Homo sapiens: one gene and its partners. The protein of the gene in region 1 purifies or fractionates together with the protein of each later gene. This does not show direct contact. Each region holds a gene or a part of one and is shown on either strand. Other genes may lie near its edges.

Region 1 (4,050 bases):
TCTCTACCAAAATAGAAAAATTAGCCGGGTGTGGTGGCAGATGCTTGTAGTACCAGCTACTAGGGAGGTTGAGGCGGAAGAATCGCCTGAACCCGGGAGGTGAAGGTTGAGGTGAACCTAGATTGTGCCACTGCATTCCAGCCTGGGCAACAGAGTGAGACTCCTCAAAAACAAAGGATTATTGGGAAAAGTGGACTGGTGAGGGGTAAGTGGTGAGTCACTGGGTGCTGTGGACTGGGACCTGGCAGGCCCCCCAGAGGAGCAGGGGTTCAAATGCCTGGAGGCTGCTGCTATCTCCCCTAGTCCTCCTGCTGCCGCCATGACTGTCGTTGGTCACGGAACTCTTCCCTCTGCTCCACCCTCAACTGTCATTGGCCAGGTGTAGGGACCCATATAGTGTTATATCAAGATTGTTGCCAATCTAGAGTTACCGAGGCAGACGGGCAGACTGGGAGCAAGGTCTGGACTGCAACCTTCTGTGCTGAGCCCAGCCTTAGGGTGGTCAGGGTGGATGAGCAAGGAGATCCTGGCCCCAGGCTGGCCTGGCTTCAAGCTAGCCAGGAAGGAGAGGAAAGGAGGCCCAAGAGGCGTTCGACCTGCCTGAGGCCATGTGTGGGACTCTGTCCTGCGTTTTGTCAGCCCAGGCTGCTCTCCTAAGCTCCGATGAAGTCTCTTCCCTGGGCCTGGTGCTCCACGTCTCCCTGTCTCTTCCCTGGGGCCTGGGGCTGAGTCAGGCCTGGGGGCTGGTGGGCACTGAGGTGACAGGTCAGCAGGGCTCGAGGAGATGGTGGAGGCCTGTGCAGAGGGAATGACTGAACTGGAAGAAGCTGCAGAAGGGCATTGGAGGAGAGGGACTAGCATCTGTGCCTGGGAGTGATGGTGGTGAGGGCCTGCGGGAGAGGCACCCTTGGCCTCTTGTGCCGGCTCTGCTCTGTTCTCAGCATCCTCTGTAGTGACTTGGGGGTAGCAGTGGCCTCTGCCTTAGCTGGTGATGCGGTTGTCAGGAGGCAGGTAATGAGCGTGAGCTCTGGTCAGTGTCTTAACTGGTGAGAGCTCCGTGAAGGCTGTCTGCTGGGACCAGATGGCCTTCGAGATTCCAGGATGCCGCCTGACTTACCGGGCTTTGGTTGCCCCTTGTCCTGTGTGGCGGAGTGATGACAGCTTTCTTGGGGGCTGCTGGTGAGCTTGGACATCATGTGCACAGCACACATGCAGAGCCAGGACCATTGTCATCAAGTGCCCAGAGCACAGGTCACAGGTCAGGTCTGTAGTGGAAGGTCTGTGTGGAGGCTTTCTAGGGCTCTGCGGAGCAGTGATGTAGTACAGGGCAGGGGCTCAGAATGGAGTTGCCTGGCATCTTGTTAATACTCTGTGTGTGTTTCCTTATTGCCAGTGAGTTCCCATGCACGAGCGTTTAGGGGCTGGAACCAGGCTGAGGAACCAGGCACTGTCCTCCAGAGGGCGGGAGCCAGCTCCAGATGGGGACAGGGTCAGGGCCGGGTGTTGCCAGCTTTGTTCTTCCCCCACAGAATCTGTCTATCCCACCCTGGGTTCCTTCAGGTCCTGGTCAGTGACTATTCTGGGAGCCCCTCCCTTCCAACTTTTCCTCTTCCTTGTTCCAGCCCAGGTGCTGGGTGAGAGGATGGTTGGGGTGTGTTTGTGTGTGAGTGGTGTCCAGGCAACGGCCACAGCCTGGAGATGCACAGACTTCCTCTCTTCCCCCTGCCGCCGCCCCATGCCTCCCACGTAGCCTTGGGGGATTTGCTGGGCCAAGCAGCAGCCGTGTGCTGGAAGTCATCGGGCATCTGAGTTTGTTGAGCAAATACAGGTTGAAGCAAATTTGAAGCCAGAGGTTAAGGCCCTGCCTCTGCAGTGTCTCTCCCAAAAGTAGGGATAGTGGACCCAGACCCTCATGGGGAGACAGGGCCCGAGGCCCCTCAGTGCACAGGGTCCAGCCTCTTCTCGCAGGCCCTGCACATGGTCCACACCTGGGGACTTCACCAGGCCTGAGGCCTCAGGTGTGAAATGACCCCCTGGACCTCAGGCGAGGCGGCCGGGAGGCTGGAGATGGGGGAAGAGGGGCAGGCTCGAGGGCAACTGCAGGAGCCTGGTGCTCACTGGGAGCCTTAAGCCTGAGTGATGGAGGCAGTGAGCCTGCGGGCAGTCCCGGGGCGGGGCCGGGCTCAGCATGAGGCAGAGGGCTGGGACTTGGGGAGAGGCTGTGCCCAAGGTGGGCACTCAGCCCCTGTGGTCAGTGCCTCGTCCAGTGGGGACTCCCTGGGGCGTCTGACGCGGCGCTGGTTGTGTCTATGCCTGCAGGGCGCCATGTTTTGGAAGTTTGACCTGCACACAAGCTCGCACCTGGACACGCTGCTGGAGCGGGAGGACCTGAGCCTGCCCGAGCTGCTGGACGAGGAAGACGTGCTGCAGGAGTGCAAGGTCGTCAACCGCAAGCTGCTGGACTTCCTGCTGCAGCCACCCCACCTGCAAGCAATGGTGGCCTGGGTCACCCAGGAGCCGCCAGATAGCGGTGAGGAGCGGCTGCGCTACAAGTGAGTTCCCCAGCTCCTGGCCAGCCCGTCCCTATCAGCATCACACATACCTTCACTACGCAAGCCTCACAGCTACCCTGAAATGCGTCAGTGTCAGTAAACTCCAGTTTGGGGATGAGGAAGACGAGGCTGGGAGCAGCCAGGCTCCTGCACAAGGCCTCACAGCTCACCGGGTGCAGACCAAGCCTGTGCTCTGGAGGGCAGTGGCACAGTCACGGGTCACGGCAGCCACAAATTCACGGGCCCAGGTGATCCTCCCGCCTCAGTTGCCCGAGTAGCTGGGACCACAGGCATGTGACGACATGCCCGGCTGGTTTTTCTCTTTATTCGCCGCCTTTTATTTTATTTACTTTTTATTAAACTTTTTTTGTATGTTTGTGAAACACTTGTCTGCTATTGAAGACACTTTACTTATTTTTTAATCCAAGCGATGCTGAAAAGACACTTTTTTTTTTTTTTTTGAGACTCACTTTATCACCAGGTTGGAGTGCAGAGGCATGATCGGCTCACTGCAACCTCCTCCTCCCAAGTTCAAGTGATTCTCCTGCCTCACCCTCCTAAGTAGCTGGGACTATAAGCCAGCACGCCCAGCTAATTTTTGTATTTTTGGTAGAGACAGGGTTTCGCCATGTTGCCCAGGCTGGTCTTGAACTTCTGACCTCAAGTGATATGCCTGCCTCAGCCTCCCAAGGGGTACCTCCCCACAGTCCTGGAGCAGACTGTGGCCCCTCAGGGCCTTGAGTGGCACGCTGGTGGGGCAGCTCTTGTCTTGGAGCCGTCAGGCACCGTGTGAAAGTTTGGAGGAGGGAGGCAGGAGGTGAGGTTGGAAGTTGAGCAAGGTTCCAGGAGTCAGCCGGAGCTGGGGCAGCATACGGGGTTGCAAGTGAAGCCGCTGAGAGGCAAAAGGGATGAGTGTTAGCTGCTGGGGGATTGGGAAGCGCAGGAGCTTCAGGACCAGCTTGTCTTGGGGGTGGTAAGGAGCCTAGGATGGGATGGTTGGGTGTTAGCAGGGTGGAGGAGGCCTGGTGTGGGCCCTTGTTTCTGCGTCACCCTGTCCTCTGCCCTTTCCCCTTCCTGGACAGGGGTCTCTGCAGTTCCCAGAAACCCAGTGCCCGGTGCAGAGAAGAGGGTGGAGCCTTGCCGCCCCCTGCCCCCGGCCTCCGACCCGAGCCCCCACCCGCCTGTGCTTGCCTCCCAGGTACCCCAGTGTGGCCTGCGAGATTCTGACCTCAGATGTGCCCCAGATCAATGATGCCCTGGGTGCTGATGAGTCCCTTCTGAACCGGCTCTACGGCTTCCTGCAGAGCACCGGCAGCCTCAACCCACTGCTGGCCAGCTTCTTCAGCAAGGTCATGGGCATCCTCATCAACCGCAAGACAGACCAGGTGCCCTGGCCCCCACCCTGGCGCCACCGTGGGTTGAGGGGTGGTGGCTGGGCCAGGCCCTGTGCATGACGCAGCCCGTGTGCCCCCAGCTCGTGTCCTTTCTTCGGAAGAAG
Region 2 (4,050 bases), on another chromosome or scaffold:
TTGGGGCCTTGGTGGGGGTCGTGGGCAGCACCCAGGTCTAGACTTGGGTGACGTGCATAGCCCTGGACTTGAGGAGCAGGATTCCTGACTGGCTTGCTGTGAAGGGCACCACTGGGGCAGTGACGCAGCTTCACACGCAGCTCGGGAAGCACACAGTCGGCGCAGATGCTTCCAAAATGTCTGCAAGGCTGCGGCCTCTACTGCATCCAGATGGTGAACTGCCTAACTCTACCGCGTCCCGATGGTGAACTGCTAACTCTGCCGTATCCCGATGGTGAACTGCCGAACTCTACCGCATCCCGATGGTGAACTGCCAAACTCTACCGCATCCCGATGGTGAACTGCTAACTACCGCATCCCGATGGTGAACTGCCGAACTCTACCGCATCCCTATGGTGAACTGCTAACTCTGCCGCATCCCGATGGTGAACTGCCTAACTCTACCTCGTCCCGATGGTGAACTGCCTAACTCTACCACATCCCGATGGTGAACTGCTAACTCTGCCACATCCCGATGGTGAACTGCTAACTCTGCCGCATCCCGATGGTGAACTGCCAAACTTTACCTCGTCCCGATGGTGAACTGCCTAAACCTCGTCCCGATGGTGAACTGCCTAACTCTACCGCATCCCGATGGTGAACTGCCTAACTCTACCACATCCCGATGGTGAACTGCTAACTCTGCCGCATCCCGATGGTGAACTGCCAAACTTTACCTCGTCCCGATGGTGAACTGCCTAAACCTCGTCCCGATGGTGAACTGCCTAACTCTACCGCATCCCGATGGTGAACTGCCTAACTCTACCACATCCCGATGGTGAACTGCTAACTCTGCCGTATCCCGATGGTGAACTGCCAAACTTTACCTCGTCCCGATGGTGAACTGCCTAACTCTACCTCGTCCCAATGGTGAACTGCCTAACTCTACCACATCCTGATGGTGAACTGCTAACTCTGCCGCATCCCGACGGTGAACTGCCAAACTCTACCTCGTCCCGACGGTGAACTGCCAAACTCTACCTCGTCCCAGTGGTGAACTGCTAACTCAGCCGCATCCCGATGGTGAACTGCCAAACTTTACCTCGTCCCGATAGTGAACTGCCTAACTCTACCGCATCCTGATGAACTGCTTAATGGCGTTGTCCCTGGGTACACATTGGGTGCAGCTCCTGCAGTCATGGGCTGCTCACAGCCGTGGCCCTTTTGGCACAACCATTGTTCCTTCTTGTCTTGGAAACGAGGACCCGAGGGAGACCATCCGTCCATCCTAAAATTGGGACGTTTGGTTTTCTGTTGTTGAGTTGGAGTTATTTGTAGAGTCTAGAGATCAGTCTCTAGGAGACGTGTGATCTGCAGACATTTCCCTCCATCTCTGGGTTGCATTTTTCTGTCCATTGATGGTGTCCTTCGATGCATGAGAACAGCCTTTGATGTACATGTAGGGGTTGGTCAGGCAGAAGGACGGTGTGGGTGGAAGCGCTGATGCCTGAAGAAGGGCACCGTAGGCAGAGAGACCGCATGGCTGGCTTGCAGGGCTGGGCCCGCACGGAGAGACAGATGTGCACAGACACACACACAAGCCCACTGGGCAGGTGCACTCCGTGGGAGGGCGTCGCTTATGTTTAAAAAGTGCCCGTTTCCAAGCCCCTTGGAGAAAGTGTCATAAAAAGACAAAACGTGAATGGTGTTTCTAAGGTGGGGGAAGGGGCTGAGCCCTAAAGGTAGAAGCTTCTGGAAAGTTTCCAGAGGGCCCAGAGCCTGTTTAAGATGTCGTGCCTGCGTTAAGTGTCCAGAACTGTCTGCTCCTTTCAGTTTCTCTTGGACTGACCTTTTCCTATAAAACTGTAAGGAAATAAAAAGTAATGATGTGATGTGGGCCGGGCACGGTGGCTCACACCTGTAATCCCAGCACTTTGGGAGGCCAAGGCGGGCGAATCACCTGAGGTCAGGAATTTGTGACCAGCTTAGCCAACGTGGCAAAACCCCGTCTCTACTAAAATTATAAAAATTAGCCGGCTGTGGTGGTGGGCACCTGTAATCCCAGCTACTTGGGAGGCTGAGGCAGGAGAATCGCTTGAACCCGGGAGGTGGAGGTTGTAGTGACCCGAGATTGTGGCACTGCACTGCAGCCTGGGCGACAGAGTGAGACTCCATCTCAAAAAAGAAAAAAAGGCCGGGTGCAGTGGCTCACGCCTGTAATCCTAGCACTTTGGGAGGCTGAGGCGGGTGGATCATGAGGTCAGGAGATCGAGACCATCCTGGCTAACACGGTGAAACCCCACCTCTACTAAAAATACAAAAAATTATCCGGGCATGGTGGCGGGCGCCTGTAGTTCAGCTACTCAGCAGGCTGAGGCTAGATAATGGCGTGAACCCGGGAGACGGAGCTTGCAGTGAGCAGAGATCGCACCACTGCACTCCAGCCTGGGTGACTGAGCAAGACTCTGTCTCAAAAAAAAAAAAAAATACCAATGTGGCAGGCAGGCTGGTGGCTGTCTGAGGTCAGTCCAGAGTCCGGAGAAGCAGCATTTTATTTATTTATTTATTTATTTATTTATTTATTGAGTACTGTCACCCAGGCAGGAGTGCAGTGACATGATCTCGGCTCACTGCAACCTCCACCTCCCAGCTTCAAGTGATTCTCCTGCCTCAGCCTCCCGAGTAGCTGGGATTAAAGGTGCCCACCACCACACCTGGCTAATTTTTTGTATTTTTAGTAGAGACGGGGTTTCACTGTGTTGGTCAGGCTGCTCTCAAACTCCCGACCTCATGATCCGCCCGCCTCGGCCTCCCAAAGTGCTGGGATTACAGGCGTGAGCCACCGCGCCCGGCCAGAAGCAGCATTTTTAAACTTGTTTGGCCCTCCCTAACACCAACCTTGGCAGTTCCTGGGCTGCAGTAAGCCGAGACTTGGAAATACATTCGCCTTGGAGAATTCAACTTCAAAATGCATACGAAGTAGGTCAGGGTGGAAATAAAGGCACTGCCCTTTCTCCAGGCACGCTGGAGTCCACGCCCTGCCTTTGCCCAATGCCCTCTGAGGGAGAGGCCCTGTGCCTTGCACCCAGCGCGGGCCACAGGCGGAGGCCCCATTCCAGGCAAGCCGTGCCCATGGAGAGGCTGGCCTGCTAGGCTGTGGGGCCCGATGGCCTGACACTGTATGGACCACGCTCCTGCCCTGCCCTGCCCCGCCCTGCCCGTGGCCCGTGTGCAGAAGTGGGCAGGCCTGGGTTGCTGGGCCAGAGCCCCGAGATTTCCCCCTGCCCCACTGGCTGAGTGTGGGGGAGCTGCTTCTCCACTTCCGCGTGGGTCTTGGCCCTGGGAGGCCAGTGGCCGAGGCTGGTCTCGCGGGCGCTCGCTCCAGGAGTGGCGCGTCCCCTCAGCGCCCTGTGCTTCCTCGCAGGGATCGACTACAAGACCACCACCATCCTGCTGGACGGCCGGCGCGTGAAGCTGGAGCTCTGGTGAGTTGGGGCTGCGGCACTTCAGTTCCTGGGTGAGGACACAAATGCCGAAGGGAGAACAGAACCCTTAGAGAAACAGGAAGGCGTCCTGTTTGCATTTCACTTGGAAGAGCCACTTACACAGCCCCTGTTTAAACATAGAATGGATTTTACTCCAACAGGAAAAAGACAGTCTGGGACACTGTGTCCCTAGAGATCGCGGCTCCCCTCCTGCCCCGGAAAACCTGATTCCGTGGTGGCTGTGAGCCCCTTCCCTCCCCTTCTGTCGGCTTCACCTTAAAAAGCATTTCCCAGCGGGGTGTGGTGGCTCACGCCTGTCATCCCAGCACTTTGGGAGGCCGAGGCAGGAGGATCACCTGAGGTCAGGAGTCCAAGACAAGCCTGGCCAACATGGTGAAACGCCATCTCTACTAAAAATACAAAAATTAGCCAGGTGTGGTGGCGGGCGCCTGTAGTCCCAGCCACTCAGGAGGCTGAGGCAGTAGAATCACTTGAACCCGGGAGGCAGAAGTTGCAGTGAGCTGAGATTGCACCACTGCACTCCAGCCTGGGTGACAGAATGAGACTCCGTCTCAAAAAAGAAAAA
Region 3 (4,050 bases), on another chromosome or scaffold:
TGTCTGGATTGAATAAAATATATATAAAAGTATATAACAATTGTGAAATATGTGGCTTAGTGCATGACAAATAAGCCCTCAGTAAAAGGTAGTTATTATTATTGGAATTATTGTTAGTGACACCTGATATTTTCAATGGTAGTTCATATCTAGTTTTCCTCTTTGGCCAAATCAGGAATTTCAAAAATATTGAAGATTGCCTCATGATATTTGCTAAACTTACTTAATTTTTCTGAAGTTAACTTCATCAAATAACATGTGCCTTGCGGAATTTTTATAAAAATGAATGATGAATTTAAAGTGTTTTGTTGCCAGTATTGCTGTTATTTATATTTACCAGACATGATAATATCGCATGAATTACTATTGGTTGAAATAAAAATGCTAAGACAAACTTAACACATTTGCTGAACTTAACTCTCTAGCACTTAAATAACTTAATGCATTAACATAGAACAGCAGTTCTCAAGCTCTTTGGTGTCAGGACCCCTTTATACTCTTCAAAATAATCGAGGACTCCAAAAGAGTTTTTGCTTATGCGGCTTATATTTATTGATATTTATGGTATTAGAAATTAAAACTGAGAAATATTTAAAATATTTAGGAATAATTTTATTTTCAATAATAATAATAAACCCATCTAAGGTTAACATAAAAACATATTTTTGAAAACTATAATCTCCAAAACAAATCAGAGAGAAAACAGGCATTGTTTTACAGTTTTGAAAATTTATTGTATTTATTTATTTATTTATTTATTTTAGATGGAATTTTGTTCTGTCACCCAGGCTGGAGTGCAGTGGCGGGATCTCGGCTCACTGCAACCTCTGCCTCCTGGGTTCAAGCGATTCTCCTTCCTCAGCCTCCCGAGTACCTGGGATTACAAGCATGTGCCATCATCCCTGGCTAATTTTTGTATTTTTAGTAGAGACTGGGTTGCACCATGTTGGCCAGGCTGGTCTTGAACTCCTGACTTCAGGTGACCTGCCCACCTCGGCCTTCCAAAGTACTGTGATTACAGGCGTGAGCCACTGCACCCGGCCCACAGTTTTGAAAATCTCTTTTAATATCTTGTTTGACAGAAAGAAAGCTAGATTCTCATATATGTATCCACATTCAAACAGTTGTGATATGTTGTTTTGGTTGAAATTTATGAAGAAAATGCAGTTTTAAAGACAGTTAGGAAAGGAAAACCTAGCAAGCTTTCTAACAGTCTCAGACACCCCCCTAGGGTCCTTGAATCACACTTTGAGAACTGCTGACACTTACCTTTTATTTTTTTTTAAAGTATTGAATAAGACAGTGTACAACATATATTGTTATTAATGCTGCTTTTGTTGTTGCTTTTTATAATTTCCTCATATGTTTGAAATAACTTGAATTTCTTCTTGTTTTGTTGATTGCATTCATGGTTTCTAAAAACAAAAGAAAATTAATGACAGTGCAGATTTGGTAAACTGGTTAAGCTACTTTGCCAAATAATACCTGTCTTATAAAGTTTTTAACCAAATTGAGATAATACATTCTACATCTGTAATGTCAGTAATATACATGGCTCAGTGCCTGGCACATAGGATACACTCAATAAATGGCAGCTATTAGAATCACCCTTTCCTCAATGCACAAAAAATAATACAAATAGATGCCAGGGATAAAATTGGCCTCATCTACCCAATAACAGCTTCAGCTTATCTACAGTGACTTTGCTACCCTCTCTTGCTGTCCCTTGACAAGGCCTACTTTAGGCTCAAGAATCCCTTAGACAAGTGAATAAATCATTTAACAGAAGCGAGCTAACATTACTCTGGAGTTGGTCTCTAAGTGATACAAACTTCCACCAATCTCATGGCCTGTGTGTGAGGCCTTCCCCAGAAACGTCCAAGTGTGTCTATGAATACTTAGAATATATGCAGCATTTCCTGTGGGAAATTGAAGGTACATGCCTCAGTCATGATGCCTCCAGGGTGAAAGCAAATTCCCCAGATTGAGTCTCTAGCCCCACGCTGTAGTATCTAAGGTGCTGGGTGGTTGGCAAGGTAGGAGATTGAAGAGGGAAACACCACTCCTGCATCCTTTATTGCTTTTGCTGTAAGGAACCTGGAAAGGTATAACAGAGTTTCCTATCAACACATTGTCAGAAAATGGCCTTCTTCCCTACAGTTTTATCAAACAGGTGGTTGAATGTTTCTATTTAGGGATCCAAATGTTTTTTTGCTCTGGAAGGAATCACTTCCAAGATTAGCAGTGGCCAATCAGTTTTGGAGACTTTTTAAAATCTGAGGCTTAACAGTGATGTTACTCTGTTTCAGAAAGGACCTCTATGTCTTCTTTTCTCTTTTTTTAAATTGAAAAAAATTATTAAACTTTCTGTTTCATAGTTGACTTTCAAAGATTACAAAGGTAGAATTATAAAATAAAGCCCATGAACTCATCATCCAGCTCCAAGATTTATCAGCCTGTGGACTGTCTTGTTTCATCCATACTTTCATCCACTTCTCCCTCCCGTATTATTTTGAAATAACTCCAAACATCATAATACTTCATCTGTAAGTGTTTTAGTATGTATATCAAAAAATAAAAGAGCTGTCTTTTTATATAACCACAATATCAATACCTCACCTAAAAATTAATGAACAATAATTATTTAATATCATCCAAAGGCCAGTCATTGTTCAGATTTTTAATTGTGTCATGAAAATTTTTAACATGTTTTTGTTTTCATCAAGATCCCAAGAAGATCCACATATTATAATTACTTGATAGATCTTTTAAGTATCTCTTAATATATAAGTTCCCCCTCTAACATTTTCTCTTGTAAATTTTTTTAAAGAAACTCTTTCTTCTTTTAAAAATCTTATATTAACTTTCTGCAGACTAATCCGTCACTAAAATATGTTATTAAGGTTAAGCCAACACTGATGTCTTTAGGGCATGTTTGATCTGTGCTGTCTAGAGATTACCTTACGTTTATGATTTTTCACATAAAGATTTAAACAACACAGTCTGGCAGCTTTCTTAACTGCTTTTTTTTTTTTTTAACTCTTAAGAAATATATTCTGTGTGGTTCTGCTGTACTCTATATTCCCAAATTCCTGTTGAAATTTCCCAGGCATTTCATCAAACTTGGTGAAAAATCACTTTCTCTTTTCTCCTTCTAATAATTGTCATTCCACCCCATCTAGGTGCAAAGGTCTCTGCTTTAGGATCTGGCCATGCACTACTTGAGGTGACTTACTGTTTGCAGTGCCTCCTCATTTTCAGTCTTTCCTACTTTCTTGAATGGTGTGCCTAGGTTCAGAGCTATAGGTAGGCATGGACCAATACCCAGGGAAGTCTTGTCATATCTGTTGTGGCTTCCTCACCCTGTTACTTGGCTTCCTACTCTAGGAAAAGGCCAGTCATTTTAGAAATTCCATGTCTGAGGAAGAAGACTTAAAGATCACTTTCAAAACACTCTCTTCTTTCTATCTTCCCAGAGATTAAACATCCGTCAACATTCTCAGCAAGCTCTAGCAAAGAAGCATTGACTCATTGTTTTTTTTCCCTCTTGATCATCCAGCCAGACACTCTATACCTGACTAGGCATGTTAAAGCAACTAGTAAGGACTTTCTGTTTCAGGTTTGTCACAGTTGCTTGTGTGTTCTCTAAGGTCAGCAAGGATCTCTGAGAATGCATTTCTGTCTCCTCTCACAGTTCATGATGTAGACACCTACCAGCCCAGGATTCCTAATAATCTCTAATGGAACCCCACAAATACAATCTGAACTTCCCAGGCTTCGACTTCCTGTGGACACAAGACAGGACAGCAATCTCTATCTGTTATCTATTTATCTCTATGTATTGATGCAGGACCTCTTGAAGACCTACTGTGGTTATTTCTGAAAGCTTCCAGATATCTTACTTATGCTCAGGCACAAGATCACCTTCTGCTCCCACCTCCTCATTGATATTTCCTAACTATGGGCCTATTTATTGAAGGAAGTGCTTCCCTAGAGTACTACCTCTCAGTATTCTTAAAACAAAAATGCTCAAAATTCCACACAGAAACT
Region 4 (4,050 bases), on another chromosome or scaffold:
TTTCATAAAATTTAATCCACTTAAAGAAACCCACTCCTTTCCCCCAAATCTTACAGCTAACCACTGCTCTGAATTTGGTGTTTATTATTCCTATGTATTTCTGTACAGCTTTATTACACATGTGTGTTTCCTTAGACAGTGTATAGTATTGTTTTGTGTATTCTTAAACTTTATATAGATGGTACTGCATGTATTCTTGTTCAGCATACTGTTTATTTTATCCCCACTCAAAATCACTTAGCAGTGTGGTTTCATGAATTGAGTTTCAACTCAATTCATCAGTGTGGGTTCATGTAGATTTAGGTCATTTATTTTTACTGTGACAAGTTAGTACATTTTAGGTCTATACCATATTTATTTCCCCTTTGCTCTCTTGATAGACTTTTAGGCTGTTTCCATTTTTTTTGTTATTACAAACATTATTACCGTTAAGTATTATTGAACACAAGTCTTTGTTTTAATTTTTGACACTGTAGTTAACCTGTGCTCCTTTTTCTCTGTTCTTCACATTTTTGTCTCGGCCTTCCTCTAATCGTTTCATTATTTGAGCTAAGGTACCATTCTTTGTCCATTATACTTAACAGTACAAAACTGTAATGGGCACTTTTCCTCGAAGGCTCTTTTTAGTAATCTTTACTTTAGTTAACTTTCTTTGCTTTTTTTTTTTTTAAATAAAAATATCTTAAAATATAGAAATATCTTGAACATATTTTACAGATATATATTATTTTACTTGTAATTCCATGCATGACTGCAGGGATAATTCACGTGTACCCTTTCTCTTGGGAAACGTTTCTGTGTTGATGTACATTTGATTTAGCTAATTCTGTATTTTAGTGTTTGTTTCCTTTAAATATTTTCCTCTAAATGTAGTGCACTTTTTTCATTGCAGTTTGGTGGGTAGGAACATGAGCTCAGAGTTAAGATTGCTTGGATTGGAATCCGGGCTCTACTTTTTAGCTGTGTGTCTTTGGGCAGCGTATTTAATTTCTATGTCTCAATTTCTTCATCTGTAAAATGGAGATAATAGAAATCTACCCGTAGATTGTTGTGAGATTCAAATGAGGTGTCTGGCATAGTCATTACTCAATACATATTAGCTATTTTTATTAGTTTTATTTTTTGTTAGAGTATGCAGTATTTTCTAAGCCTACTCAGTTTGTGGTGTTGCCTTCTTTTTTGAAGCAGCATTTTAACACAGACATCTATGCCTCAAGGAAATGTGTGATGTTTTATAACTGTTAGTGGAGATTGGGAAGAGATACTGTAAACTGTAGCAAACCATAAGTTGAGGTACATTAACTAGATTGTTATATTTTAATATCAATAATTTAGGATTTGGTTGGGCATGGTGGCTTATGCCTTTAATCCCAGCACTTTGGGAGGCCGAGGAGGGCGGATCACCTGAGGTCAGGAGTTTGAGTCCAGCCTGGCCAATGTGGCATGAGTCCAGCCTGGCCAATGTGGTGAAATCCCGTCTCTACTAAAAATACAAATTAGCTGGGTGTGGTAGCGGGTGCCTGTAATCCCAGCTACTTGGGAGGCTGAGACAGGAGAATTGCTTGAACCTGGGAAGTGGAGGTTGCAGTGAGCCAAGATCATGCCATTGCACTCCAGCCTGGGCAACAGAGGGAGACGCTGTCTCAAAAAAAAAAAAAAAATTAGGATTTATCGTGTTTCAATTTTTTTGAAATACGTATAAAGCACTTTGAAAGTGAGTTGACATGGTGAAATTCTCAGATAATTACCAAGGGTCTACTCTTGTTAGTTTTAAATACCTTTTGTAATATGACCCTGATAATGATTCAGATGGTGTTTCTAAGTATATTATCCTATGTCATCAACCTTGTGTTGTTCAGTGGAGAAGGAACCATTGCCATCCATGTATGTAAAGCTTCATAGGTAAATTTGAGCGAGTGACTTAACCTTTCTCAGCCTTCCATTTCAATTTCTGTAACATAAAGATTTCAATTCTTACCTCACAAGGTTATCATGACTTATGTTAGTTGCTTCCTTCATCTCTCTGGCTCCCCTGTCTTCTCTTGTAACTTCCTTTTTTTCTGTTTTCCCTATGTATATTCTTTCTTCCTCTTTATCCCTTCTCTGCCCTTCACAAGTAGTTTTTTGGTAAATGGTAACAAGACATTCTGAACCAGTGTGTGAGTGAACCCATTATATTAATAAAAATACACATTATTTAAAGGGGACTAGGAAATGTTAATTCTGTAAGGACAAGAGGATTTAGGCCATATGAAGTTACAGAGGAGATGCTGTAAATGTTAAATGAGCAGTATAAAGGACAGAGAGGTCATGTTTTGCCACAGTAGCCAGGGAATGGTCAGCTGAGCAAAATGAGACTAATGTTAGATTTGAAGAAAGATTTGTGAGGAAGGTATTCACATAGGATGTCCAGTGGGCAGTGGAGTTTGGAAGATTGGCAAATAAAACTGAGCCATCAACTGCTTGGGAGGACTCAGGAAGCTGTGAGGATAAATCACATCCCATGGGGAAGAAAGGCACATGGACTTGGAGGACAAAAGCAATTAAGACCTAGCGTAACCTCTTTATTTATTGATTAAACTCTGAAAGTAGTTGTTGAATGAATTAAACCTTCTAGGAATAGAAAGGGAGAACTAGCAGCTAGCAAATGGAGAGAATTGAGTGGCTCTGAGTTGTTGCAGGAGGAGCTTTGAAGGTCTGGCCCGAGTTGTTTGTAACCCTGCCGTTGAGACTGGTGGTGTGGCATTGTCTGTGCCATTTAGTCTGACTGGACTTCTGGTTTTTTTTTTTTTTTGGTCTGTAATCCTTTCTTGCTTTTGGGGGATGGAGAGGGATCTGCTTCATCACTGTTCTTTTTACCTCCTTTTCCCCCTCCTTTACTTGACTCAGGATTTTTGTTACCTGTGCCATATTTATTTCTTAGGTGTCTTTGACTTTATCAGTTAGCTTTGTGCATTTCCCCATGTATTCATTGATGTGTTTACTACCTGGAATTTAATGGGGTGTTTGCATGAGTCTCTTCCTCTTTTGACATCTCAATAAGCAAGATTCTCATGGAAACCATCTCAGAGGCAGTGGGCAGTAAATAGATGGAGTGAAAGATGAGGCAGAACTGTTTCTCTGCATTCTATATTGAGATGTACAATTGTTTAACAAATAATTACAAAAGAAAATGAGTGCCATGAGAGAGTGCCCTAAGGGGTCAGCGGATGGGTAGAGAAGTTCAGGCTGGGGCTAGGGCCAGTGGAGGTTTGGGTATCAGAGAATGCCTAATCAATTTAGATGCTAAGAGATAACTAGGCTTTGAATGTATGCAGAAGAATAAAGGACATTCCAGGTAGAGCTAACAGGGCAAAATGAGCAAAGGCAGAGAAGACAGGTAAGGGAGACAAAGAAGTGGATGGAATTGATTTGTTTGTAGTGTGCGAAGTAGAGAGTTGGAAGGTGAGAGTTGAAAAGTAAGCTGACTTCAAGTTGTGGAGAGTCTTAAGTACTTGGCAGACGAGTTTGGAATTGTTTTTTATTCCTTCTTTTTTTTCCCCTTTTGGACAATGAGGAGGGAATTGAGATTCTTGAAGAGAGGATTGATGTGAAATACGGGTTATAAGGGAGTGGCAACGTCACACTGGCAACATGAATGAAGGATGCATTGATGGAGGAGGGGGAGAGGGGACTAGAGACAGAGGAATAGTTAAGGATACAGTTGAATTCTGCCAGGTGACAGGAGTAAGGACCTGAACTGATAAAGTAACACGTGAGAAAGGGCAGGAGGCAGGGGATGACAGAGGAAGCAGAACCATCGGGACTTGGCAACTGACTGGATCTTTGCAGGGCAAGGGAAGGGAACATTACCAAATGCTTTTTAAGTTTTGAGTAAGTTCTAGAAATGGGAAGAGTCAGCTTTCCATTTGAGTTGGGAAAGGTGAAAGCAGAGTGACAGTAGAAGATGTGGAAAGGAGAATTCAGTTAAAAAAATTTATTTTTAAAAATGCGAAGTGGGATAGCTGGGATCTCCTCAAAGAAAGCCAGATGAGGGGTCATCTGGGTAGG
Region 5 (3,972 bases), on another chromosome or scaffold:
TATGGTCCTATCCAGACACACACTTCTGGCTTCCCTCAAGCAGTGACTATTATCCTGACTCTCACGCATTTAAAGATAATTGAAGTTCCTCGTCCATCTCTTTTCTTTCCAATTTACAGGCCATTTAGTGTGTAGAGCTTCTCATAGTCTGGGGTTTGCTAGTTGGAAATTCATGGTGTAGTTTCCCTATTCTCTGTATTTCCTGCAAATTGGAAGCTGCTGTGTAATTCCTAGATCTATTAATTCATTAGTGGGTTGCAAAATGACATTTTAGTCATTTCATTTCTTTTTCATTTATTAATTTGAATACTTTTATAAAGTGTTGTGCTCCATATAGCAGAATACTTTCCCCTTTTAAGTTTTCAAGATAAAATGAGTTCATATTAATATGTCCAATTCAAAGCTCATAGGGTTATTTTACCAATTGTATATCCAATTCAAATTCAAAGCTTATAGGGTTTTTATTTAACCAATTCTGTATTACACTCTTCCTTCTACACTGAGAATTTTTAATTCTTAAAGACATAGGGGATGAGGAATTAGAATGTCCCATAATTACTCATTTACTTTACGTATTTACTTTATCATTACTTTATCTGTTATATGTGCAATTTTTTTTGAGACACGGTCTCTGTTGCCCAGGCTGGAGTGCAGTGGCACAATCATGGTTTGCTGCAGTCTCAAACTCCTGGGCTCAAGTGATCCACCTCAGCCTCTGGAGTAGCTAGCCAGGACTACGGGTGCACACCAACACACCCAGCTAATTTTTTTTAATTTTTGTAGAGACAAAGTCACTCAACTGTTGCCCAGGCTGTTCTTGAACTCTTAGGCTCAAGCCATCCTCCCACCTCCACCATAACATTCTTAAGAGTAACAAAAACACTATCACCAATATGATTGCCAAAAACACTTGGAACTTTTTTTTTTTTTGCTGTGATATCTGAAATTGCCAAAGGATATTCAGTATCTGAAATAAAAAGGCAAAGCTGAATATGCTGCTCTCTACAGCAGAGGGAGCTGCTGTGGCTGGACAGTATCTGAACCAAGCAGATCTTAAAACTTTGTAGGTGTTGAGAAATGGTGGATGCATGGACTGGCACCGTCTGTGGAGCCATGATTATGTAGGTGAGACTTGCTCATTATCTTGTAGTGTTTTAAAATGTCTTCACATTTCTAAAGGCAACTTGCTTAATGCATTTTTTAATTTAAATTTTTTATGTTGTACAGTTTATTTTAAATATAGTTGCTATTTTTTAACACAGATGCCAAGTCGGTGCTGTGAGATTTTCTTTCTGGTGATTTGGACCAGTTTGTCTCCCTCTTGATATATCCATCCCAAATGGAAAGGCCCTGTAAACTGTTACGATCATCTCCAGAGGTTAACTGGAATATACACCAATGACAGCTTGCCTGGGTATGCCAAAATACCTGCAAGAATGTCCACATCATCTGGTGATGTCCCCAAATAACAGTTTTTACCATAGAAAGATCGTTAACATGTTTGCTTTAAAAGTCATTAGCAGTCATAACGTACTTACAGATTCTGCCTATAAGGAATAATACATAATTTTAGATATAAAGGCCCCACTAGTCCAGGTTTCCTTATGCCACTGTGCTTCCTACTAAGTGTTGCGACCAGCTCTTGTCACTAGTTGATGACAACTTACTCCAGTAGCCACAGGGCTGTGACACCATAGTTATAGGTGATTTTCATAGATTTAGCCATCCCAGGTTCGAAACTAGTATCCTCTAGCTCTTAAGTAGCTGATAACCTCCCCATGGGAGAAACTCCATACTGCAGTTTCCCATATGGTGCTATGTATAACTATCTTATACAATTAATACAAATTGCATATGTATACTTATATAATATGGACTACTAGGACAGAACTTTTTAAATTACAAATAAAATAGCCAAGTAGACAATTACATTAGCAAGTGATGTTACCTATGAAAACGTGAGGATTTATGGTGGCAATGCATTTCAGTTAACAGGGATGTGTTAGGGGACAATGTGAGCCAATGTAGATTAAGGAAATAAGCCTGAGAAATTTATCAGAATTAGCCGTCAGTATTCAAGCACTGATCAACAGCAATGTGTCTTAAGGGCAGGCATCACTGGTGCTGAGAGAACTGGGAATTGTCAACTGTGAGCTGCTAGGGGATGGAAGAAACCTTAGTGTAGTCTTAGGAGCCGCTTGCTTAAACAGATGTATCAGAAACATAATAGGCCAAGGGTCAGCCCTTTGAAAACTGACTTCAGGGCCTTCCTTTCCTCAGGCTGCTGCCTCCTAGGCCAGACCCTTATTTTGGCTTACATTCCATAACCCTTGTATGTGCGATAGGGAACCTGTATACAATGCTGACACGGAAAGGGAAGACCATCGCCTTTTGCCTTTCAGTGTCTCATCTGTAAGCAGGGCCGCTGGCTGACCAAGATCAGTTCTGAAGGTCCAGCCTCTTTAAATTCCAGTTCTGTGATCACAAAGCCACTGTTGTTCCTCATCCTGCCAACTGTGATACTGCTGCTTCAGAATTACTGGGTTTCCTGTTCATCATACTCACCAACCTGAGGTTTGGTATTTCTCAAATATTCTGGGCTTCCAGTACATACTAGAGCCTGTGATAATCAGCTAATGATCAGACAAGTTTGTTGGGAGTTTTACCTAAGTATTTTTGTGTTTTAAAAACCTAGGGTGGGAAATGCTCAGAGTGAGATGGTTTGACTTCATTAGGCATATAACCCATTTTTATTATAAAAAGAAATGCACATATAAGTAAAAAGACCATTTTAGTTAGTCCCACCATTCGTTGGTAACCAGTTCACTAAGTGTACATCTTTGCAGATTTCTGTGCATACATACAAATATTTTTACAAGAATAGGATCATACCATGAATACCACCTATAATGGTATGTCTGTTGTCAATATAGGTGTTATAATTAAGACTGTGTAGCCTTCCTCTGTGGATGTACCAAAATTTATTTAATTCCCTGTCACTGGACACTTTTGTTTCACTAATAAGTAGACACTGTGTAAGCAATCTGTCAACATCTCTGCACCTCTATTTTTGGTATAAGTATTTCCTTAGGATAAAATCCCAGAAATGGAATTGCAAGGTATAAAAGATTATTAACATTTTTCAAGGCTTTAAGATGCCTTTACGGTGTATCTGTTACATCCTGCTTCCACACAAATTCTTCTGTATAGCCAGTACCCAAGCTGCAGCTCTCAGCACAGGTGAAGACAGCCAGGATGCCCCAGTCAATGCTCTTGCCCAGTCTGTCAGCCTTCAGGTAGTTTAGGAGCTGAGGCATGACCTGAGAAGAGGGTGACACACAGTTAGAAAGCTGCTTCACAGCAGGGAGCACGAGACCTTCTCAGCCAGGATGATTATAGGGATCTTGGTCTTTCAATCCTCATACTACAAAGCAGGATTATAGACATTATACAATTAACATGTTTAACAATCTAAAACTTCCTTATGACTTCAAAGCCCCTCTCACCTTCTGTTTGGTCTTTTCCATTTGAGAAAGAAGTTCACAAGTGGCTGTTAATGAATTATTTTCATTACTAATATGCCACTCAAAAGGGCTGAGGCTTCTATTTGGGCAACTTTTACTTTGTATCATTGCAGATGTTGTTACTCTTGACTCAAGAAACACTAATTACTAGTAATGAATACAGAAAGGACATCTATCAATGTAGTTATAGAGACCAGAGAGGAATCTTAGAAGTAGTCTAACTCAAAGAGTGAATAGGCAGAATAGCCACCTGATATGGAATCACTTTATACAAATCCTGTCACCTCAATTTGGACATTGAGAGCTTTGGCACTAAGAACCAAGCAGAGTTTTGTGTATGGTCCTCATAATTCCTTTTTTACCCAAAGAAACAAACCAATATTAGCTATGACTTTGGTAAGGTTAGTGAATCCATAGCTCAAGAGCATTTCCACCCTACCCAAATGGA
Region 6 (4,563 bases), on another chromosome or scaffold:
CTTTCCCACCCGTGCTCCTTCTTTTCTGCCTTGCAGTCTGCTTTAGATGGTGCCTGTTTCCTTTTTAGTTTCTGACCATCCTCTGGGAAACTAAAGTTCTTCAGGAGGCTGAACTTCTCCTTCCTTGGAGCATCAGAACCAGGTAATGAGAACACCTTTCCAACTTCAAGACCGAGTTCACCTGGTCTGTTGATTTGCTGCTCAGCACTGCCTACCCAGTAGATGCCTGCTGGCTTCAGGGGAAGCTCTCTTCTCTCCCCTTTCTTCTTCCCACTGGGAGGGCCGAGCTGCTGGTCAGGCTTCCCACAAGAGTAGTTTGGCTCTGCCCTGGGACTATGGTCTTCCTGCTTACGAAAACAGTCGGAGGGGAACTTCATCTGTGGGTTCCTATGTCTGCTTTCCCACAGAGTCTGAAACTGCCTTCTTACCCCTTTTGATATAGTTGGTCCCCGAGGTTCTTAATACTTTGGCACAATATCTATGAAGGAATCCCTTTAAACAAGAGAAAATGCTACCCTGAGTGAGGGGTGGGTCTTCAGGCTTGGGATCTCAGACTTGGCTACCTGAGATCCAAGAGATCCAGAATTCTCAGCCTTTGGGGCTTCACATTGAGTTATTTGAAAAATGGGTAACATATTGGCCATTTTTGGTTTTTAAAAGGTAGAAAAACAAAAAACCTAACCAAACAACAACAACAACAAAAACACAAAAAATGCAGAACAGGGATCGGGGAAAAGGAATTTGCTCTCATGTTCCTGACTGCACGGGTGAGAGTTGGCATCTAACAGAAACAGCTACTCCCAGGAGGAGCCCCCGGACCAGGCTGGGACGCAGTCTGGGCATGGCCAATGGTGCAGACCCCTGCCTTCACCCCTGAACACACTCCTTGGCTTGCTTGCTTTTCATAGCATCCTACGGGTCTTATATACTACACTGAGCATGATACTCTCCGAAACTGGGTTGGAGAAGGGAACAAATCCTTAACTATCTAGCCATGTGTCTCCCGTATGTCTCTCTGGGTCTATACATAGACTCATCTCATCATTACTAGGTTTTGAGTTAATATTATTAGCTCCATTTTACAGATGAGAAAACCAAGTCTTAGAGAGCTTGGCAGAGGTCACATAACTTATTAGAAACTGAGCTGGGAATTTGAGATGGTTCTGTCTTTCTACTACACATGCGGTTTTGCCCTTCCATGTGGCATTTCTCCACGTCATCTTTCTCTTTAGCCCTGGCTGGCCTTAGTGGTTCAAGGTGATCCACTGCCTTGCATTATCACCAGCTCACACCCCGCTCTGGATTGGCGTGAAGATTTTCACTTGAGTGTGTCACTGAATGATGCCATTGGAAGCTTCTGCTGATAAGCGTGGGACCATCTGCTTGGCACATCTCAAATATTTTCAGCAGTGGGAGAGCAGCTCTGATTCCTTCAGAGATGAGAGGCTGCAGCCATCCTTCGAGATGTTGGGACCGGAGACCCTGCAGGCTGGCTGGGCATTGATGCCCCAGATGTGAAGGGGCAGCCAACCTGTTGGCCACGTCTGACCCTTCCTGAGCAAATGACACCAGTGAGTCTGCGTCCCAGTTTTTCATTGCTTAGCTGTCCTTGACAACCAGAGTAAGATTTTCTCTCTTTAAAAAGCTATTTCTTGGATAACTCTTTTCTGTGCTGGTTTTTCTTTCTTTTATTTTTTTCGGTGTGTTAGATGTTTGCCGTTGGTGTGTGTTGGCAAAAACTTCTCTTTCCTCCTGCCTTTGTTTTGGAAAATTTACTTCTTTGCTGAGTTAACTGTTCCCAGACATTGTTTTTCAACTTCAGGGTTGAAACTTCGCAGTAGCGTTTTCTTTTTTAACTCGTTGCAGGGGAAAGAATCTTAGGATCAATTCACAGTTTGAATGGTGGACTTGGAGGTTTTCAAGGCTGCTTAATGAAAGCTTATGAATGATAAAGAAGTTGAGGTTTGAAAGAGTTGTTACTGAATTTGATTCCTCTGGAGAAATCACTTGGCTATCAGCTCTTTGGCATCACAGGGGCAAGCTGTATTGATTTTTCTTCATTTTTCCTTAGTGGGCACTGGCATCAGTATTAGCTTCTGTTGCTTATGAAGCCGTATGCATTCCTTTGGTGACAAGATGTCTGTTAAAAGGAATCTCCTGCCCAGTCTTGATCTTTGGTATGAGCGTCTTAGCAACACTTCCCAGCCAGGATACTTAGGAGTAATTTGGTGAGAGAATGTATAGTGTGTTGTTAGATTGCTATGGGTGCAGCAGTAAAAAGGTGGTAAGAAGCTGGCCTCTAGCAGAGTGCCACGGCCTCGGCACTACTGGCATTTTGGGCTGGGTAATTCTTTGCCGTGTGGGCTGTCTTGTATATTATAGGATGTTTAGCAGCATCTCTGGCCTCTACCAACTAGATACCAGTAGCACACTCCTCTCCATTGTGACAACCAAAAATATCTTCAGGCATGCCAAACATCCCTTAGGGGACAAAATCACCTTCCCCCCTTTTAGACCAGGGCTCTAAATTGATCCTGTGGTATGTTTGGAAAGGGAGCAAGAAGTCTCTGCTTCTGCGTACAGATGGCCCTAGTGTGGGGAAGACGGGAATGATGCATTTAATACCAGGACAGATGGTCCTGCCCTGTACATTCCCATCGGAGCCCTTGCCTGCCATGGAAATTCCATCTCACAAATGGGTTTCTGTTTGTCCAGGTGACTGCACACACACACAGGGAAGAATTTGCCCTTTTCTCTGGATCTGCACACCTAGAAATCCAGCCTAGGGTCAGGCTGTCTTTTAAGTTGCCTGGGAACAACAGGCGCTTTCAGATGGCCCACTCCCCCAGCCTGAGTTTTATTGGCTTTTCTCTCTTTCCTTTTTTCTCCCTGCCTTTCTCCCCAGCCCCCTCTTTCTTTCTTCTAAGAGTGATGTCCTAGGCTGGGTATCTGGGGCCATGGAAGGACTGTGCTCAACTGAATGGGAATGTGGAAGGGGTTGTTTGCTTCTGAGGTCTCTAGAGAACACTTGAGCAGCATAAATGTATGGCATTTAGAACTCTCTGCTGACTCTGAGTCTCCTTGTTTTTTCTATCAGCTCCACCACCCATCTGTTCCTCTCACTTTCATTGAGAGGTAATTGCAGCCAGCAATCTCAGGTGGACCTGGCAGGACACAGGCTCTGCAAAGCCCACATCCTTACACATCAATGGAAACCACCATGCTTGTTTTCCCTGCTTGTTGATTCATTATCTCAGTTTGGCATTTCCATGAGACTCATATTGGCAAAGTGCTGTTCAATCTCTAGCATTTCTTATACCCCAGCCTTTCAAACTACATTAAAATGCCAGCATGTGAAGCAGTTGAGACCCAGTGGGGTTAATCTGCTTGATGGAGGACTTGCCTCTCATGGTCAGTTTGACTGAAAGTGCAGCTCCCAGGCCAAGCAGCCGTAGGCACAAGCAGAATAGGCTGTGGCCTCTGCACTGTACTTTGATCAATGTCAAAACCCCTCTTCTCAAAAGTCTCTTCTGCATTCAGATGCGATACTGCCCACAATTCTTTGAGTTTTGCAGGAAGGTGGTGGGTGTTAAGTCCTACTTTCCACCATGGTCACCCTGGCTTATGGTGTCTTGTGTGAGGTGCTGGAGCCTGAATAGGCAAGGATCATCCCCATGGGGGCAGCCACGCCGGGGTGAGGGCAGTGGCAGTGGTGACATGGCAGGGGATGTCAGTGCTGGGCAGGGCAGGATATCTGCATGGGGGGTACAGGGAACTGGTGCTGGGTGTTGGAGCTCCTGCAGTGTGAGGTCTGTGTCTCAGGGTAGGGGGCAGGGGGAGCACTGGTCCAACAGGAAGTAAAAGGGCCCAACAAAGTGAGGAGGGCATCTGTGCAGGGGCAGGGGAAGAGCAGTGGCAGACATAGGCAACCATTCATAGGTGGGTTGATCAAATGAGTAAATGCATAGAGGGCCAAGGGAGCCAGGTTTCTCAGAGAAGGGAGTTACAAATATGGAGAGGGAGAAAACTCAAATGAATTCACTGGTGGTGGGTCAAAACTGGAGATATTGGTGTCAATTTATGATTATATGTATATATTTTATAAAGATATAAAAAGACATAGAAATACAGCCATAGGTGTGTGTATGTATGACTATACATAAATGTTATCTATGTACATATATTCCTTAGCCCTGCCACTGAGAGGGGCTGGGAGCAGCGACAGCCTCCATGCAATGAGCACATTTTACACCCAGATCTTGGCTTCTAAATATAATTATTTACTGAAAGGAACCAGGGCTCCTTGGAGAAATGGCTGATTCTAGGCACTAGGGCAGGGGACATACAAGATTATGGTAAAGTGTCCAGTTTTTTGTGTTGGAAGGCTATTAGGCATATTGGAGGAAGTGTGGACCAGCGGGGAAGGTTGGATTGCTGTTTTGGCCCACTGAGACTGCTCTGCCACCTGATGAGGCTCAGTTGGAGATACCCAGGACATTTGGGTATATGGGTCTGACATGCTGGGGAGATGTGTGAGCTAAAGCTGTGCATTTGGATTTCATC
Region 7 (4,050 bases), on another chromosome or scaffold:
GTATTTTTAATAGAGACGGGGTTGCACCATGTTAGCCAGGCTGGTCTTGAACTCCTGACCTCAGGTCATCTACCTGCCTCGGCCTCCCAAAGTGCTGGGATTACAGGCATGAGCCACTGCGCCCAGCCTGGACGTCAGACATTCTAACTTTACACTGTGAAGTGCTGAATTTTGTTGTGTTACTGTAAAGAGGGTTAGGCCTTTGTTTTGGCATGCAGTTGTTAGGTAATTTGACCCTTTAAAAATTTGCTTTGAAACTTGGTTCAGGTGCTTGTACTCTAGGACTAATTTATCTTCAGTAGTAAGGCATAACCTCTGTGAAGACACTACCCAATGCCTTGTGTATTACTAAGTCTCTCTACTCTGGCCAGATCCTTCTGGCCATGAACTTTTCTTAGCCCTATGTTCCAGCAATCATTCAGCCTACTAATTTCTGGGGGGTTCTCTACCTGGACACATGCGTTTTCACCCCACACATATACAGATCACTCCTAGGCCAAGGATCCATGGGAATCTCTCTAAATATCTCTACGGCTTTCTTTCTGGGCAGCTTCCTCTTTTCTGCTACCTTATCCTACAACTTCTACTCAAATTGAGCTCTCTGAACTTTGATTTTTTTTTTGAAATGGGGTTTCGCTCGTCGCCCAGGCTGGAGTGCAGTGGTGTGATCTCGGCTCACTGCAACCTCCGCCTCCCTGGTTCAAGCGATTCTCCTGCCTCAGCCTCCCAAATAGTTGGGATTACAGGTGCCTGCCACCACACCCGGCTAAGACAGGGTTTCACCATGTTGGCCAGGCTGGTCTTGAACTCCTGACCTCAAGTGATTCACCCGCCTTGGCCTCCCAAAGTGCTGGGATTACAGGCGTGAGCCACTGCACCTGGCCTGAACTTTGATATTTAACTCTTTCGTTCAGCAAGACTACTGGGCTCTGTTTGGTTTCCATGGTTTCCCTGTATTGCCCATTGTCCAATATATGCAAACAGTTGTTTCATTTAGTTTGTCAATTTTCTAGTTGCTTATGATAAGAAGGTAATCCCCACAGCAGTTAATCCTTCAAAGGCAAAGAAACCCCTTATGTTCTTTTTTATTTTTACACCTGGAAAATAATACTTTTTAGTTTACACAAAACGAAGTCATCCTTACCTTTGTAGATTTCTCTAACGGTTGATCATACTGAGCCTGCTGCATAATGTCACTGACTATCATTTTAGCAATCTTCCAAGCTAGCTCTTCCTGGGCCTAAAGAAAATAATTTAAACTGGTGATAATGGTTATTCATTAGATGGATCGAGATGCACATACTCAGTGCTCTTAACAAATGGCTTACGCACATAATTTCTACTTATTTGGATAAGAATTTCATTCCCATGTACGAAAAAACCTGGGCCACCCTCTGGCTATGAATATTAACATGTCATTCCCTGTCTTCCAGTGTCAACTACTGGATACCTAACACCGAACTACTTTCATATTAGATGGTCAAAATAAAACATTTTCCTTTTTTCACCTCCCATCTCTCAATGTACTTAATTAACTATTAAAAAAGCAAGCCTCCACTACTTGAAGTAAAACTGCCAGTGGGGAAGGAAACATTTGAGCTTTTGATCTACACACTGATTACTGATGCCTGCTGGCTGATGGAAACTTGAATGCATGTATATCCTTCAGTGGTCCTAGCCTCTGACTGAAGATACCTTCACTGCTACTACCAGGCAATTGTTAGATGTTAAGAAGGGACCACCCTTTCTTGGTACATTCTGGGTAAGAGAACATAAATGTGCCATGCTGCTTAAACATGGGACCTAAAGAAAAGGAAAATTTTAAACCTCACTTACATGAGGGTGGCACTTATAAACAGAAATCTTTTTATCCTAAAGGTAGGATTTACCTCATCAGTATTTCCTTGCACCCATTTCTTCATAGCTTGTGAGAACATGGATCCTAGTAAACAAAGACAAAATTGAATGTACATTTCATGCATAATTTTACATTAAAAATGCTCTTATTTGGCTGGCCATGGTGGTTCATGCCTGTAATTCCAGCACTTTGGGAGGCCGAGGTGGGTGATTCACCTGAGGTTAAGAGTTCAAGACCAGCCTGGCCAACATGGTGAAACCTGTCTCTACTAAAATAATAAAAATCAGCCAGGCATGGTAGCAGGTGCCTATAATCCCAGCTACTCAGGAGGCTGAGGCAGAAGAATTGCTTGAACCTGGGAGCAGAGGTTGAAGCGAGCTGAGATCGTGCCACTGCACTCCAACCTGGGCAACAGAGCGAGACTCCAACTCAAAAAAAAAAAAAAAAACCACTATCACCACCACCACCACAATGCTCTTATTTAAAAGCTGTTGCTTCCAGATATGGATATTCTTTTTTGTGTGATACCCCAAAACACTAAGGAATGTTACATTAATAAAAACTGATTATATTGCTTACATAACAGAGCATTTAACTTGCAAACATCATGGCTTGAAAAACTTTTGAAAAGGTGTTTCAGAGTTCTGGACTTTTCTTCTACTCTCCTCACTTGATGAAAGAACTAACATCTAGTGTTAGTTTGTGGCAAACATTAAAAAACAAAACAAAACCAAACCAAACCCTAACCAGGATAATGCTCTTGGGTAAGAATCTAGCAATACATTGGGAGACACCAACACATTTGTTATGTTTTCAAACCTTCCAGACCAGCTCCTATATAAAAGGGCTTCTAAGACAGAGTATGCTGCTACATTCTAGTTCTCTAGTCTATATAAACTAGCTGGGTGAGAGAAGAGTTTCAAAGAGCTCTACTCTATCCAAGCCAGAGTACGCCTTAACTCCCTAGGATGTATAAGCCCACATCTGTAATCACATGCTGAGAATCATCCGAAGTAGGCCAGCCTCTATTTCTATGAATGAAATACACAGCTTACTTTTTTATTTAATAATTTGAACATGCTCACTTCCTAACTTTGCTTTAAAACAAGTTAATTGTTGGTAGATTATTTCTTGAGGCAAGGTCCTGTTTAATTCAATAACTGAATTCATAAAAAATACAAAACCTGGATCCTTTTCCCTCAATTTTTATTATTACCTAAGGGTTTAAATATTGGTTTAATGAAATTTTACTGCCAACCAGAGTCTACAGAGTCACAGTGTTAAATGCTCTGCATGAAGGCTCAACTGGCTGTTGAATCACCCCATGCACTGTTCTCTCGTCAGGCCCCCCTGCAGAGTCACTCTATTGACATGTTAGAAAACCCATGTTAAAAAAACTCAATCTACCTTCCCAATTTACACATGAAATCTGCCACCAAATTTCACCTTAGAATTCAACCTTGGACATATCATAAATCCGACCTTCCCTCTAATTCTTGCTACCACTACCTAACTTTGAATCTTTTTCTTCTCCTATCAACATTACCAGCTAATTCCACTGGCTGACTGGTGTCCCTCATGCCAGTCTCTCCCACCTCCAATTCATTCTCATTCTACTGACAGGGAAAAGCATCTGGTTAGAACTCTGTTTAGAAATCTCTGGGCTGGGCGCGGTGGCTCACGCCTGTAATTTCAGAACTTTGGGTGGCTGAGGCGGGAGGATCACCTGAGGTCAGGAGTTCGAGACCAGCCACAACATGGAGAAACCCCGTCTCTACTAAAAATACAAAATTAGCCAGGCGTGGTGGTGCATGGCTGTAATCCCAGCTACTCGGGAGGCTGAGGCAGGAGAATTGCTTGAACCTGGGAGGTGGAGGTTGTGGTGAGCCGAGATCACGCCATTGCACTCCAGCCTCGGCAACAAGAGCAAAACTCTGTCACAAAAAAAAAAAAAAAAAAAAAAAAAAAAAAAAAAGAAATCTCTGATGTCTACATGATGGGAGTCAGTCTAAGCTCCTTAAAATGACATGTAAGGGATTTATCAATTTAAGTACAGTTTTGTCTCCCACCAATGTATCGAAGCACAAGGGATTGCCACTACATTGGGCACGTGCTCATAACATCATTTTACAATTCCTTCTTGTTACACTGTCTCTTAGATGATTTTAATGTAACTTCTTAAGTTATCTTGC

The links.
Region 2: the proteins of PPP6R1 (region 1) and RAB40C purify together in Homo sapiens (affinity purification with western blotting; one study listed by BioGRID). This does not show direct contact.
Region 3: the proteins of PPP6R1 (region 1) and HTR2C purify together in Homo sapiens (co-immunoprecipitation; one large-scale study listed by IntAct). This does not show direct contact.
Region 4: the proteins of PPP6R1 (region 1) and ACSL3 purify together in Homo sapiens (affinity purification with mass spectrometry; one large-scale study listed by BioGRID and IntAct). This does not show direct contact.
Region 5: the proteins of PPP6R1 (region 1) and PDCD2 purify together in Homo sapiens (affinity purification with mass spectrometry; one large-scale study listed by BioGRID and IntAct). This does not show direct contact.
Region 6: the proteins of PPP6R1 (region 1) and MAS1 purify together in Homo sapiens (tandem affinity purification; one large-scale study listed by IntAct). This does not show direct contact.
Region 7: the proteins of PPP6R1 (region 1) and AKAP10 purify together in Homo sapiens (tandem affinity purification; one large-scale study listed by IntAct). This does not show direct contact.

The regions. Positions count from the first base shown.
Region 1 is NC_000019.10:55,245,379-55,249,428, reverse strand, and holds part of PPP6R1 (serine/threonine-protein phosphatase 6 regulatory subunit 1), read left to right. Parts: intron 1-2,319; coding exon of another isoform or gene 2,320-2,325; coding exon 2,326-2,552; intron 2,553-3,750; coding exon 3,751-3,937; intron 3,938-4,026; coding exon 4,027-4,050. UniProt on the Homo sapiens protein: Regulatory subunit of protein phosphatase 6 (PP6). May function as a scaffolding PP6 subunit. Involved in the PP6-mediated dephosphorylation of NFKBIE opposing its degradation in response to TNF-alpha.
Region 2 is NC_000016.10:613,805-617,854, forward strand, and holds part of RAB40C (ras-related protein Rab-40C), read left to right. Parts: exon of another isoform or gene 1-2,460; intron 2,461-3,403; coding exon 3,404-3,464; intron 3,465-4,050. UniProt on the Homo sapiens protein: RAB40C small GTPase acts as substrate-recognition component of the ECS(RAB40C) E3 ubiquitin ligase complex which mediates the ubiquitination and subsequent proteasomal degradation of target proteins.
Region 3 is NC_000023.11:114,901,868-114,905,917, forward strand, and holds part of HTR2C (5-hydroxytryptamine receptor 2C isoform a precursor), read left to right. Parts: intron 1-4,050. UniProt on the Homo sapiens protein: G-protein coupled receptor for 5-hydroxytryptamine (serotonin).
Region 4 is NC_000002.12:222,867,325-222,871,374, forward strand, and holds part of ACSL3 (fatty acid CoA ligase Acsl3), read left to right. Parts: intron 1-4,050. UniProt on the Homo sapiens protein: Acyl-CoA synthetases (ACSL) activates long-chain fatty acids for both synthesis of cellular lipids, and degradation via beta-oxidation.
Region 5 is NC_000006.12:170,574,398-170,578,369, forward strand, and holds the end of PDCD2 (programmed cell death protein 2), read right to left. Parts: intron 3,321-3,972; coding exon 3,162-3,320; 3' UTR 898-3,161; downstream 1-897.
Region 6 is NC_000006.12:159,889,563-159,894,125, forward strand, and holds the start of MAS1 (proto-oncogene Mas), read left to right. Parts: upstream 1-1,425; 5' UTR 1,426-1,571; exon of another isoform or gene 1,572-1,621; intron 1,622-4,563. UniProt on the Homo sapiens protein: Receptor for angiotensin 1-7. Acts specifically as a functional antagonist of AGTR1 (angiotensin-2 type 1 receptor), although it up-regulates AGTR1 receptor levels.
Region 7 is NC_000017.11:19,908,037-19,912,086, forward strand, and holds part of AKAP10 (A-kinase anchor protein 10, mitochondrial isoform 1 precursor), read right to left. Parts: intron 1,943-4,050; coding exon 1,890-1,942; intron 1,241-1,889; coding exon 1,145-1,240; intron 1-1,144. UniProt on the Homo sapiens protein: Differentially targeted protein that binds to type I and II regulatory subunits of protein kinase A and anchors them to the mitochondria or the plasma membrane.